Homo sapiens: one gene and its partner. The protein of the gene in region 1 interacts with the protein of each later gene in a biochemical or structural test. Each region holds a gene or a part of one and is shown on either strand. Other genes may lie near its edges.

The links. Proteins that work in one complex are often made in the same cells at the same time.
Region 2: the proteins of JARID2 (region 1) and NKX2-5 form a complex in vitro, tested with the Homo sapiens proteins (one study listed by BioGRID).

Annotation. Positions count from the first base shown.
Region 1 is NC_000006.12:15,508,057-15,515,077, forward strand, and holds part of JARID2 (protein Jumonji), read left to right. Parts: intron 1-283; coding exon 284-398; intron 399-907; coding exon of another isoform or gene 908-1,058; exon of another isoform or gene 1,059-1,301; intron 1,302-3,239; coding exon 3,240-3,345; intron 3,346-4,151; coding exon 4,152-4,334; intron 4,335-4,858; coding exon 4,859-4,989; intron 4,990-5,182; coding exon 5,183-5,366; intron 5,367-7,021.
Region 2 is NC_000005.10:173,232,207-173,239,477, reverse strand, and holds the start of NKX2-5 (homeobox protein Nkx-2.5), read left to right. Parts: upstream 1-4,271; 5' UTR 4,272-4,394; coding exon 4,395-4,728; intron 4,729-5,337; coding exon of another isoform or gene 5,338-5,432; exon of another isoform or gene 5,433-5,969; intron 5,970-5,976; coding exon of another isoform or gene 5,977-5,981; exon of another isoform or gene 5,982-6,013; coding exon of another isoform or gene 6,014-6,135; exon of another isoform or gene 6,136-6,268; coding exon 6,269-6,909; 3' UTR 6,910-7,271. UniProt on the Homo sapiens protein: Transcription factor required for the development of the heart and the spleen. During heart development, acts as a transcriptional activator of NPPA/ANF in cooperation with GATA4.

The DNA.
Region 1 (7,021 bases):
GGCGGCCGGTTCCTCGGCATTCCTCACCAGGTCAGGTTCCTGCGGCCACCTCCCTCATGAGGCCGACGTGCTCCTGATGTTTTGAAGCGGTGTTCATATTCTCCCACTTCTGTAGAGCAAGCAGGAAAGAGTAGGTACCTTCTGCTCACTGTCTTTTGTCTGGCTTTGAGTCCCATTTCTTTTCCTTCTTGTTTTAGCGGAAGAAAGAGATTTTTACTTACTGTTCCTTTGAGACCTTGTTGCCTAGCTTTTAAAAATGCCCTTTTCACTCTTTCTGTTTTAGGAGTGACTATTCCCTGGCTAAATATTGGCATGGTCTTTTCTACCTCATGCTGGTCTCGAGACCAAAATCACCTTCCATACATTGACTACTTACACACTGGTGCTGACTGCATTTGGTGAGTACTGGCCCCAGGCGGGAAGGGAGGGACTGCAGAAACTACTATTACCACATGAAGTGGGGCCTGTGGGTAACTTCTTGTCCAGGTGGTTCCACGTGCTTGAGAACTTGCTTCTCTGTGTTCAGGCCTGTCCTGCGTTCCCTGCCGAAGCCTGGGCCTGGGATCACCTACCTCTGTTGGAAGAGTTGGGGTGCTGGAGAATGTTGTAACACTGTCTGATGATGAGCAAATCTTTTCATATGCTTAGTGGCCATTTAAGTTCCCCTTAGTTCCTTAAGTTCCCTTAAGAATTACCTACTTACGTCTGTTTTTGTTTTGTTTTGTTTCGTTTTGTTTTGTTATGGATTAGTCACTTTTTCTTGTGGATTTCCAAGAGTTATTTTCACCTTAGGGTTAAGGAACAGTAGTAAAAGTGCCACACAAAGCTAACCAGTAGTAGTGACCGTGTCATCAGCCCTCTAGTAACTGAATATAAACCGTGGTATTTCATGATTGGTTATTTTCAGCCTCTCTGTAGAGCCAGTGTTTCCTCATCTATCGGTGGCTGTGGGGAGTAGAGTTGACTTGGGAATCTCGTTCCTGCCATGTGGAGACACGCGCGTTATGTACCCTGTGGAGTCTGTTGCCTGGCGAGGTGTTCTGGGTCCCCGCCTGTAATCTGACTCTCACTGTAGCCATCCCTGATTGAGGCTGGGTCCCCGCCTGTAATCCTGACTCTCACTGCACCCATCCCTGATCGAGGCTGGACTCTTTGGTGTCTTTGTTTACGGCGGCAGATGGGAAATGACTACAAATAATCAGATGTCTTGTCGTCTGATCGTTTACCGGCATGCTGTTCATGCCATGCTGACTGTGTTTATTGCCCTAATGGGGTGATTAAACATTCTTTATTAAAATAAACAAAGTCTTAGGACTCGTGTTCTCCCTCTTTGGAGCCAGCGTCGGCTGCAGCCTCCTCATTTTGGCTGTTCTGGTGAGTGGTGCTGTGGACATGAGGGAGCCCTCCCTTCCCACATGGGTCTGTGTGCCATGGACGGTGATCATGGTGTCCTGCAGTGGGTCCAGAGTGATGGGCCCGGGAAGCCCAGGCTGTTGCCTGTGGAGCGGGGACTGACAGGAGCCTTGGGGCTTAGCCGGGCCAGGCCACCAGCTGGGGAGGGGACAGCCAGGACTATTCCGAGAGGTGCCTTTGCCTCCGGAAGAAGAGCGTGGCCATTTCCTGTGGAGGAGTTACACTGGCTGTGGCATGGCCTGTGTTCTGGGGTCATCCCCAGGCCAGTGACCTCAGGCCCGAGTTTCTTCCGTGTGGGTTTGCTTATGGCTTGACGTTGAGTCACAGATAGCAAAATGTGATACCCTGTGTGGGCTTTTTGAAGACTCACTCCTGGAACCTCATTGACAGGAGAGAAAGAAAAGGCAGGGATAGGATCAGAGAACATGATGGTGTGTAGTTTTTCTTAAAACATGTGATTTAGGTTAGAAACCCTGTATTTAAATTACCAATCAGTAACAGAATATGTTGGCATTGAAAATAACATGAGCATTAAAAAAAATACTTCCTTCACTGAGCAACTGAAACCAGGATTTGGCCTCAGAGAGAAATGCTTTCATCACAGACACATAGGGGCTGCAGAGTTGCTGCCCGCCTGGACCTGGGGGGCGGGGGCTGTGGGGAGGGGCTGGCGGTGTTGCCCTGAGCTGCTGGCCCACATCTTTGTGTTTAATGGTGGTTGATGGCTTCACTGGCTTAGCATCCTGAAGACCTGTCAGGCCCCTCTCCACACTGATGTCCTCCTCTTGCCTGGGGAGGAGCCCCTCAGACAGCCTGAGACACCCAGGGGCAGGGCAGCCATCCCTGCACCCCTGCCTTGCGGGGGGCCTCCCCTCACATCCCCCTCATTCATGCTGTGAGCCTGACACCAGGGGCGTCACACGTTGTGAGTGGAAGTGTGGCCCTGGTGGGCTCCAAGGACATGGGCAAAACCTCCTCCCCTCCCTGTGATTGCCGTGAGGAGGCCGTGTAGGTTACTTTCTACCTGTACCTCCCACCTTTTCTTACACTTGAGGACCCCTGCCATGGTTATACCCTGGAGGGTCTGTGAGCCACCACTTCCCCAGGCCACCCTCTGACAGAGGCCTATGAGCCCTTGATCCTCCTGTGTGTCTTGCTGTATGTGCCTGATGCCGGGTAGGCTGGGTCCTAACACGTAAAACTCTCCAGTGGGGAGCAGAGCTGGGGGCCCCTAGCTATCCCCTGACCCCTACTTCACCACAGCATCTGCCAAGGAGTTGGCCTTGAGGTGGCACATGTGCATGAGCCTGGCTCCTTCCCCAACTCTCTGTGCATTTGTAGAGGGCAGGGTTTACTGTTCCTGTCTGGAGGGCCGAGGGAGCCACGTATTCCTTGTGAGGACATTATCAGGTGCTGCTCCTGCAGTGGCCTCTGTTAACAGAAGGAGGGTGCAGTGCTGGAGCCTCAGAAGAGGCTCGTGGAGGCCGCAGTGTGTCTGGTTCTGATTTCTAGGGGTTTGTGAACATCTGTTTGTGGTTTGAAGGCTTTTTGGCTCACCAGGTGGGTCAGATCTCCATAAAAGATGAGCATCTCGCAACGCGGATGCACTGTGGTTTGGCTGTGTGCTAGGTGGACGTGGCACTGCTGCCATGGGAAATGGGAGCCAGCAGTGACCAGGCACCCAGCCAGGCCAGTGCGCCATCCCTGCCGGCGTGGAGCAGAGCCTCTCGTGTGCTCGGGTCCCTGAGGGTGACGGGGGTGGCCCAGTACATGCAGGAGGCCCTTGTCAAGTCTCTGCTTGTCTCTTGTGTCTCTCAATGACCCAGGTATTGCATTCCTGCTGAGGAGGAGAACAAGCTGGAAGATGTGGTCCACACCCTGCTGCAAGCCAATGGCACCCCAGGGCTGCAGATGCTGGAAAGCAACGTCATGGTGCGTCCACTCAGCCACCGCCTCCAGCAGGAGCTGTAGGACCTCCTAGGCACTTGAACATGGTTTCCCATGAACCCGCCTTTCAAAGGCAATGAGGACACAGCAAAACAAATCCCCAGGGTGCAAAGGGAAAGGTCCTCTGACACAAAAGCCAAACTGACCTTCCATCAGATTGCACAGGGCGCTGGGGTTTTGCACGGCCTTTGCATCTGTTTTGGGGCTTGTTTGTGTTGTGGGCTGCTGTGGGCCCTGGGATTTCTTGTGCCCGCCGCTCCTACCTTCTGGGCATGTGAGAGGAATGAGCACAAAGGCTTCTTCACCTGTTTTCAGGAAGTCATGGGGCTGGTGAGTTCCTGGGAAGTGCTGCTTTGAGCTGAGTTCTGACCAGCTTCTCTGGCCTCTGCTGACCCTGCCGGTCCCGCCTGTCCATCTTAGAGAAGAGATGGACGGGGGACTCCTTTGTAAGCCCAGCCTGTGGGCCTGTGGCCTACTTGGCTCTGGAGATGAGCCCGGCAGCCTCCTGGTTGTGTAACCTTGTCCTGTTTCCAGCCCTGGCATTGCCACGTGGGGACAGAGGGGCCTGTGTGGTCATCATGTCCTCAGCTGTGCATGAACCTGTCATCACTCTTGGACCAGTGCAGTTTAGAAGCTCCTTCTTGTGTTATGAATGACGTCTTTTTATTTTCCACATAAAACAATCTTATCTCCTTGAGAGCAGGCCTCTTAGGGTGCGCATACGTCACCTGAAGACTGCAGGTGTCCCTGCGCACAGGGAGGGGTGCCTCAGCCTGGCCCTGTCTCCCCAGATCTCCCCGGAGGTGCTGTGCAAAGAGGGGATCAAGGTGCACAGGACCGTGCAGCAGAGTGGCCAGTTTGTCGTCTGCTTCCCGGGATCCTTTGTGTCCAAAGTGTGCTGTGGGTACAGCGTGTCTGAAACCGTGCACTTTGCTACCACCCAGTGGACAAGTATGGGCTTTGAGACCGCCAAGGTGAGCAGAGCCGGCCTCCTCCCGCTTGCTGCCCCCGCATCCCTGTGAGTGCCGTGCGTGAGCGCACACAGAAGCATCCCTGCGTGTGCGTGTCTATTTGTCAATAGTTCCTTTTGGAATATGTCTTTGAAATTCTTAAGACGTGGTTGAAAGGTCTTCTAGGAATGAAAAGTTGTTAGGGATTTGTTTGTATCACAAAGAGTTTTGATCAGACCGTTACTGACAGACCCCTCCAGTATTGGAAAACTGTTGAAGATGCTCAAGGTAATTGCTTAGAATGGACAGAGAACCTCCACCCATCGTGAGGGAGTGGCAGCTGCCTCTGGGTAGCGGCGAAGTGCTATGACTTTTCCTGGTATGTGGTGCCTTTCTCACAGGGAGGCAAAGTTTTGAAGAGTTTTTAATCTAAATGCAATTCAAGATTTAGAAATTCAGACAGCCTGCCTGCCCCCTCCACCAAGAAGAACCTTGACAGCTGCCTAGTAATGAAAATCCACCCTAAAGGGATGTGACTCCTCTTTCAGGAAATGAAGCGTCGCCATATAGCTAAGCCATTCTCCATGGAGAAGTTACTCTACCAGATTGCACAAGCAGAAGCAAAAAAAGAAAACGGTCCCACTCTCAGTACCATCTCAGCCCTCCTGGATGAGCTCAGGTAACAGACCCCCAGAGCCCACGCCAGAGAGCTGGACCCGGCTGCCCTTCGGGGGCTCACCCCCCGAGCAGGCCTCACTTCCTGACAGGAGGGTGTGTCTGCAGGGAGGCCGGTGTGGGGTGCGTGTGTCCCCTCTGCTGGTGAGCATGGCAGGCCGTCACTAAAGGTGCGGGCCGTCTCCCGTGTCTGGCAGGGATACAGAGCTGCGGCAGCGCAGGCAGCTGTTCGAGGCTGGCCTCCACTCCTCCGCACGCTATGGCAGCCACGATGGCAGCAGCACGGTGGCGGACGGGAAGAAAAAGCCTCGAAAGTGGCTGCAGTTGGAGACGTCAGAGAGGAGGTGTCAGATCTGCCAGCACCTGTGCTACCTGTCCATGGTGAGCCCGCCTGGCCCTGCCGGCGCCCTCGCATGTAGTGCTTGGCCTGAGAGCTCCGGGGTTGCCCCCAGAAGAGGGAGGGCGCTCTCTGCCCAGGAGACCTGCTGTGCTCCCATCTCTGGAGCCGGCTGTGGGACCTCGGCGGAGCTTCTGGCCGCCGGAGGTGGCTGCCTCACCCACAGTGACCAGGCCACACAGAGGCTGTCCCTCTGTTCTGCCCACGCGTGGCCCTCCCTCGGTCCTGCAGTGCGTCCTTCCTCCCTGGGGAGCAGGTGGCCTCCCTCTCCGCCCTACTTTGTCACTCCAGCCCCCACGCACTCTGCTCTTACCCATTCTTTCTGAGGCAGTGAGGGGCGGGTTTCCAGTACTGGGCAGCGTCTGCCATTCCCTGTGGCCTGTGCCTGGTGCACCTGGGCCCATGGCCTCTGCCCTTTGGCTCTGTTCTTGGTTTCCTGGTCCTGCTCAGCTACATGATCTGCCTCAGCCCCCGAGGACTTCAGAATCTATCCTTGGTGAAAGCTGATGTTCCTCCTGTCCCATCTGGGATCAGAGATGCTTTTCTGGCACAGCCACTCCAGGCCACAGCAGGCTGCATTCCTCTTGCCTTCTCGACTGTGCCCTGCTGGCTTCCTCGTGCCCACCTGCCTGCCTCAGCTTTGGGGTTAATACCAAACACCTCCTCCCCCTGCTCACCCCTGTTCCAGCCCAGAGGTGGGCTCAGAAAAGCCCTTCCATGGCGACTGGATGGCTGTGGCCTCGCCATGCTTCTTCCAGTCTCCCCTTGACCTCTCACCAGAGAGCTGCCCTGACACACTCTGGGTAGGGACGCCCAGCTGGCACTGCAGATGGCTCCACAGCACTACACACCTTAGCCTGGAACAGAGAGCATGCCCGAAGGGCCTGACCTGCCTCCCCGGGCCTCGTCCCTTTCCACAGTGCCTCACATCTCCAGTACAGAAGCCTAGCTTAGGAGGTGCCCACCCCATATGCTGTGTGGTGCCTGTGTCCCACAGGTGCCCCCTTCGGCTGCACACTCGCTGAGAGGCCAGTGCCTCTGCGTCCCTCTGCTTGTCCATGGTGGGCCAGGACTGAGACCCGGGTCGACTCTCCTTGGCCTCCCAGTGTGACTGTGTCATGCCGTCTCACCCCGAGTCCTGGCGTGCCCTGTAGAAGAGGGAGGACACAGCCTCTCCCGGATGAGTCAGATCGTCAGATCGTCAGATCAGGGCTTTGTAACATTTGAAAGAGCTAAAAACTCGGTGTGTCCTCATCTCCTCCTTACCTAAGGACGCAAATCACATTGTATCAGATAGGCCCACCCTCATGGCCTCATTTGAGCTGATTTACCTCTTTAGAGGCCCTACCCCCAACTGCAGTCACAGCTGAGATCCTGGAGGTTCAACGTTTGCATTTGATGGGGGACAAATGCAGTCCGTGACCGCCCTGCCTCCTGTCCTGTAGATTTCCTTCTGTCTGGTTTTTTCCCCCAGACTTCTCAAAATGTATTACCTAGAGCCATTTGGTTCTTAAAAGAAAATGATGATAAGCATTTTCCCAGATCTTCAAAGTATCTTATAAACATCACTGATAAAAGCTGCATAGCTTGGTGTGCTCTCTCTCTGTTCTTTTTTTTTTTTGTTTGTTTGAGACAGTCT
Region 2 (7,271 bases), on another chromosome or scaffold:
GGGAGAAGGGAAAGGAAAAGTGGGAGAGCGAGGGGAGGGGAAGGCGGAAGTGAAATGAACGCATGTTAAATTCCTCTCTCCCCCTCTCTTTCTCAAATGAACTTTATGCAGGAAATCTCCCTTGTCTATGAAGGTTGGGGAGACCTGGCATCTCAAATCCAACAGCCTGGTCCTCTCCCCTGGCTGCGGGGTGGGGGGTGATGGTGGGGGTCTTGCTCTTCCTCCAGTTGGTACGGTCTTGGGCGCAGCGACGTGTAATAAAAGAAAACAGTCTCAGCTGTGCAGTCAGCTGTGTGTTCGAATCCTAACACCCTGACACTGTCCTTTCCCATCTGTGTGACCCTGAGCAACTTACTCCACGTCTCTGAACCTCATTCTCCTCAGGCCTGCAGTCGGAATAAGAGGATCCGTGACGAGATCCGTGAGAGCGCCTGGCACACCCCGTGGGCACTGAACAAGCGTGGAAATGAGAAGGATTTGGTGCCAGCTGAGCCACCTGAATGAGGCGAGTCCCGAGGCAGGAAAAATCCGGTGCCGCGGAGGCCGCCTGGACTCTTCCGGAGCCAAGGGCGAGGTCGGCGGCCCTCAGAGTCGCCCCCCGCCCCCAACTCCCGGCCAGGAAGGAAGCCGGGCGGCGGAGGGGCCCAGCGCGGAGGCGGAGGCGGAGGCGGAGGCGGAGGCCGAGGCCGGGAGTCCGGCGCGCAGCCGGAGCTGCTCATCCATCAGCCGGACGAAGAGCAGAGTCGCGCTCTCGGCCCTCTGTTTGCTTTCTCGCCAATTATTGCAGCGCCGCAGCCCCTTTGTTGATACAGTAGTCCGAAAAAGTGCTAATGTTCATTTATCAGGGGGCCAGCCGGGGACTCCCACGAGTTGCGATTCTTCCCAAAATATAAACATGGGGCGAGCGTCCCAGACAGAAACTCCCATCTGTTTCCCCCGCGCGGGCCGAGAGCGAGGCGTTGTTGAAGATAAAGCCGCGGATAACGCCGCCTGTCTCCAATGGACGTCTCCCCAGCGCATTAATGACATTCCCGGTGATAGTTCCAGCTTATCTTTCAATTAATCATATATACCTTTTGCGACCAGCCCTGCTGATTGCACGAAAGGGGGGCCGGCTCCGGCTGCGCCGATCGCTTTTCAATTAATAATAATTTATTCACGGAGAATGCGCTCGAGCCACCCTGGAATTTGGATTATCTTAAAGCACCAACTCTTTAAAAGTCAAGGAAATACACAGATAGATTTTCGATCTCTTCTCTCTCCTTTTGTCTCTCTCTGCCTTTCTCTAGGCTGAAGGCTGTTTGTTTGTCCTGCTAGTTTGGTCAAAGTGCGGCGCAGAGAGGCGGCCAGGTTGGGTCAGCGGCCCTTGGGAAAAAAAGATGTGTCCCTGTTGGGGGCCAGAGAATCAAGTTTCCTCCCACCCAACCCCCAACTATTGCAATTTCTATTTAGATCTATTTAGAGGGATTTTTTTTTAACTCACTCGGAAACAGTGAGGACTGGAAAGAAAAGCTGCAAATGGCTCTCGGACTTTCCTCTAAGGAGACCAGCATGGGTCGCCCCAATTTCTATTTTGCACGTATTTGTCCGTTTTTGCCCCATCTCCTCTCTCCTGCAACACCAAGACCTTTTTGGAAGCCAAGAGAAATCATTACCCGATTCACAAAGAGCATAGAGAGTGTAACAGTCACTGATCTTGTTCAAATAGGGAGAGTTTTTTTTCCTTCCCTTTTTGTAACACCTGACCCACAGGACTGACAGTTCTAGGAAGCCCCCTTACCCGAAAATAGGAAATAAATCCTTGCCACCTTGATTTGCAAGGGCAATGCTAATTTTTTTCTTTCTCCAGAGCTCTCAAAAAAAAAAAAAAAAAAACCTTACTAAAAACAGGGATCCCGGATGTAGCCTCGATGTCCCCCATTAAACGGTAATATTTCAGGCGTCCGCTCACACTAATCTTTCAAACTGTCATCGCGAGCCGCCTGGCCAGCAGATTCACTTAACAGCGCTCCCAGGACCCTCGTTCCGAGCTCTTTTCAGCGAGACATTTAATTGAATCGGATGTGGCTCGTTTGCCAGACGTCACCGCCTCGGCGATAGGCATCCTCTCCAACGACACCCCCCCCCGCCCGCGCTCGAAAACAATCTTCAAAGGCAAGGCGGGCCCCCAAGCTAGGTTAATTTACAGCCATAACGGTAACGTGGCCAAAAGTCCAGGCGAGGAAGGGCCGCAAGGCCGCTGACATGCAGCTCCGTCCAAGGAGAATTTGGGTTGGGAGGTGAAGAGGTGGGGGGACGAGGTTTCCTGGGCCTTGAACGCCCCACATTTAAGAAAAGGCATCCTCCACAGACTAGACTAACAATTCCAGACCCCCAGTAGTCCCTGGCTCAGAAACTCGAGGCGTGATTTCGGCGTGGCAGCCCAGGCCTGTTACTGACGGCTGGCGCCTAGAAGCCGGGGTCAGGGCGTTGCGCGCCTCCTGGGCTGCCCTGCGGGGCTCACCTCTCTCCCCAGCATGGAGGCCCCAGGTCCTGGGAGTGTGGCTTTGATGAGGGACAGGAAAAGTCCCAACATCAGGCCAATGCTTGACTTCACTTGCGTCGGCGTCTCAGACGGCACACTGTCGGGTTTGAGCACCCAAGATGTACGTTCTGGACAGACACTATTTTGTCCCCATACATGGAGCGTTTCCTCCGCACCTTGGGCGCGCCTGCGGGAGCTGTGTCTTTAGGTAGTTTTTGGCCCTGCGCCGCCTTTATTCTACTCCAAGCGCCTCTTGCCAACCCGCACTCCGCAAAGAGCCAAGCCCTCCACATCCCCATTCTCAGCAAGTCCACGCGTCCCGCCCAGCTTCCCGCCCGCGGTTCCCTGTACCAGCTAGGGCCGTGAGAAGCCAACGCTTTTCCACTGACAAATCCTGTCATCCCCAGCTCTAGAAGGCGTCCTTAACCTGGGCCCGCTCTGCCTGCCCGGACTCCTGAATTGTAAGCAAAATAAAACTCCTCTCTGCAGTGTTCTGGGGAATGGAGAAGACCCCAAGCTTTCATCAGACCTCCCAAGGAGTGCGGGGACCCAGAGAAATGAGGCCACCCGGGCAGGATCTGGCCATGTAGCTGGCGCTCCTGAAACTCTGGCAGATTTGTCTGACTTCTGTGCCCTACTCTACTGACCCTGGGCTAAAAATGATCATGATCACCCCACTTGCCCTGCCCTTCCCCCACGCGCCTGACCGAGCCGCAGGGGTGCCCCACTGGAAGTCCGGCCCAGAGGCCTCAGAGAAATCCTGGCCTAGCTGGGCTCAGAGGAGCCCCGCCTCCCTGAGAGCTAAACCTGGGCTAGGACCCTGAAACCTCGAGGTTGGCAGAAGCCTGAGGGCCTTGCTGCCAGGCAGGGAGGGCACGGGAAGGAGGGAGGTGGGATCGATGGCCTCCAAACAGGGGAAACAAGGTGGCTGGTAGCTGGGGCACTCCACAAGACAGGTGTCTCCTGGGAAGCTGAGCTTACCAGCTGGGATTCCTGATTTATTTCATTATTAAGGGGAGAGGCATTTCCCTGGGAGGGTACTGGCAGTGACTGATGCCCCCTGGAGTTGTGCTGTGCATAACACTACTGTAGGAGGCAGCAACTCCTACCCCACCTGGCCATCACTCACCTTGCCCTTACTTTCGTTGACTCGCCCAGAAGCACCCAGAGCCTGCGGCATGACTGACCCTGTAGGCCAAGCCAAACCAAACCCCCGAATTGTCCAGAATCTCGCCCTGCTGCTATCCCCAAAGCCAGCCCTGTCCTCCAGGCTTCTCTTCCTATTCAGACTCTCCCTCATCCCACCACCTTCAGTAATAAAGCCTTCCTCAAATCACTCTCCTCCCCACCGCTTCCCACCCCATCCTTCTCTCTCCCATGCTGGTTTGGGTGCTGAGGAATATTTCTTCAAACCCACACCCATCCAGCCCTGCCCAGAGGCCTGACTCTGCATGCCTCTGGTAGGCTTTTCAGGCTCACATTAGGGAGCAAACGCAGGCTGCAGGAGCAAAAGGAGACCCTTCCAAATGCGTCGTGGCCCCTTTAAAAAAGCTGGGCAGGGCTTTTTTTTTTTTTTTTTTTTTTTTTTTTTTTTTTTTTTTTTGCCGTATGACTATATTAGGTGACACGAAACTGCTCATCGCTCCTGTCATCGAGGCCCCTGGCCCAATGGCAGGCTGAGTCCCCCTCCTCTGGCCTGGTCCCGCCTCTCCTGCCCCTTGTGCTCAGCGCTACCTGCTGCCCGGACACATCCAGAGCTGGCCGACGGGTGCGCGGGCGGGCGGCGGCACCATGCAGGGAAGCTGCCAGGGGCCGTGGGCAGCGCCGCTTTCTGCCGCCCACCTGGCGCTGTGAGACTGGCGCTGCCACCATGTTCCCCAGCCCTGCTCTCACGCCCACGCCCTTCTCAGTCAAAGACATCCTAAACCTGGAACAGCAGCAGCGCAGCCTGGCTGCCGCCGGAGAGCTCTCTGCCCGCCTGGAGGCGACCCTGGCGCCCTCCTCCTGCATGCTGGCCGCCTTCAAGCCAGAGGCCTACGCTGGGCCCGAGGCGGCTGCGCCGGGCCTCCCAGAGCTGCGCGCAGAGCTGGGCCGCGCGCCTTCACCGGCCAAGTGTGCGTCTGCCTTTCCCGCCGCCCCCGCCTTCTATCCACGTGCCTACAGCGACCCCGACCCAGCCAAGGACCCTAGAGCCGAAAAGAAAGGTGAGGAGGAAACACAGGCCCCCTTCTCCCCTCCTGGGTCGCTTTCGTCCCCAAGAAACTCAGGGCCAGGAGGAGGAGACACGCGCCCTTGGGCCGAGGGCTGGGCTGCGGCGGGGGGTTCAGAATGTAAGATGCCTGGTGTTGTCGCCAGGCTCCCGCGCCCCGCGTCCAATCGGAGGTTCAGAGGAAATGCCGGATTGAAAGGATCAGAAGCAAGAGACCAAAAAACGTTTCCCCCCGGCCTAACAAAGCCCCGGGCGGCTTCGGCTCTGCTCCTGGGTCTGGTAGGAAGTTGAGAAATCGGTTTATGGTAGACAGAACAGAGAGACAAGCAGATAATCTCTGTTTTTAAATCTCCTTTGGATTTACGAATCTTTTTAAAGATCTGATGAGAACCGCTAAACAGAAATTGAAATGTTGCTCACCAGACAGCTTTTGCGTACAATCGGAGGAGGGTCCTGGACCTTCTTTCTGCAGCCCACCCACGACCCGGGTTTCTGGTGCCTTTCTTTCTTTGCGCCAGGAAAGTGGAGTCTGGGATCGAGGGCCTTGATTTTAAAATGGGATACTGCGGACCCTCAGGAATCTGACTTCACTTTATTTTTTCAGCACAACTTGCCGGCGCGGCCAGGGCGGAGAGGTTCCCTCGTGGAAAAGTTAGGAAATGCTGCGCTACCGCGGGCACAAGGGAGTGGACGAGATGAGTGCGGGATCATCCCGCAGGCCATCCCAGGATCGGGGAGGGAGGCCGGCCCCGCTGCAGAAAGGGGCCTTCTGGGAGACCCCCCAGCCCAAGGCAGGAGCCCGGGCGATTCCCGGGAGGCCGCAGGCGCTGGGCGAAGCGCTGGGCGAAGGGCCGCTGCCAGCCGGGAGAGAATTCATAGGTTTGTTGAGGAGCAGAGGCCTGGGAACAAATTCGGGCGGGCACGGCGGCTAGAACTGATCGCTACCAATTCGAGGAAGCCAGCAAGGCAGGTTCCGAGGCCGCCTGCCCACCCGCAGCTTCTTGGACACTGCGCAAACCCTGCTGCGGCCAGGCTGGAGCCTCCGATCACCAAACCAACACTCCCTGGCCTTCTGTTTCTTGATTCCTTAATTTTGAGATAAGACCGTCCCTAGCAGTGAGGCCTCGGCCTCTGTTCATTTAACTTCTCAAACCAAACTAGCCCTAATTCAGTTCACCCCAGAGCATCACCTGGTTTTATTTTTATTTTTTTATTTTTTTATTTATTTTTTTTTTTTTTGCAGCCTGAAATTTTAAGTCACCGTCTGTCTCCCTCACCAGGGTGTGAACTGCCCCGAGGGCAGAGACCTCCCGTTTTGTTCTCCAGCGCCTTGAGCCAGCCTGACTTTCTACAAATGCTGAGTGAGACGTGTCGGTGGCTCCCAGTGCACTTGGCAGAGTGAGCCGCAGCCAGCTGGGCGCTCCAGGCAGGACACAGTGGCCTCCACGAGGATCCCTTACCATTACTGTGCGGCCGCGCTCCGTAGGTCAAGCCGCTCTTACCAAGCGTCTCTCTGCCTCTCTGTTCCCCCTCAGAGCTGTGCGCGCTGCAGAAGGCGGTGGAGCTGGAGAAGACAGAGGCGGACAACGCGGAGCGGCCCCGGGCGCGACGGCGGAGGAAGCCGCGCGTGCTCTTCTCGCAGGCGCAGGTCTATGAGCTGGAGCGGCGCTTCAAGCAGCAGCGGTACCTGTCGGCCCCCGAACGCGACCAGCTGGCCAGCGTGCTGAAACTCACGTCCACGCAGGTCAAGATCTGGTTCCAGAACCGGCGCTACAAGTGCAAGCGGCAGCGGCAGGACCAGACTCTGGAGCTGGTGGGGCTGCCCCCGCCGCCGCCGCCGCCTGCCCGCAGGATCGCGGTGCCAGTGCTGGTGCGCGATGGCAAGCCATGCCTAGGGGACTCGGCGCCCTACGCGCCTGCCTACGGCGTGGGCCTCAATCCCTACGGTTATAACGCCTACCCCGCCTATCCGGGTTACGGCGGCGCGGCCTGCAGCCCTGGCTACAGCTGCACTGCCGCTTACCCCGCCGGGCCTTCCCCAGCGCAGCCGGCCACTGCCGCCGCCAACAACAACTTCGTGAACTTCGGCGTCGGGGACTTGAATGCGGTTCAGAGCCCCGGGATTCCGCAGAGCAACTCGGGAGTGTCCACGCTGCATGGTATCCGAGCCTGGTAGGGAAGGGACCCGCGTGGCGCGACCCTGACCGATCCCACCTCAACAGCTCCCTGACTCTCGGGGGGAGAAGGGGCTCCCAACATGACCCTGAGTCCCCTGGATTTTGCATTCACTCCTGCGGAGACCTAGGAACTTTTTCTGTCCCACGCGCGTTTGTTCTTGCGCACGGGAGAGTTTGTGGCGGCGATTATGCAGCGTGCAATGAGTGATCCTGCAGCCTGGTGTCTTAGCTGTCCCCCCAGGAGTGCCCTCCGAGAGTCCATGGGCACCCCCGGTTGGAACTGGGACTGAGCTCGGGCACGCAGGGCCTGAGATCTGGCCGCCCATTCCGCGAGCCAGGGCCGGGCGCCCGGGCCTTTGCT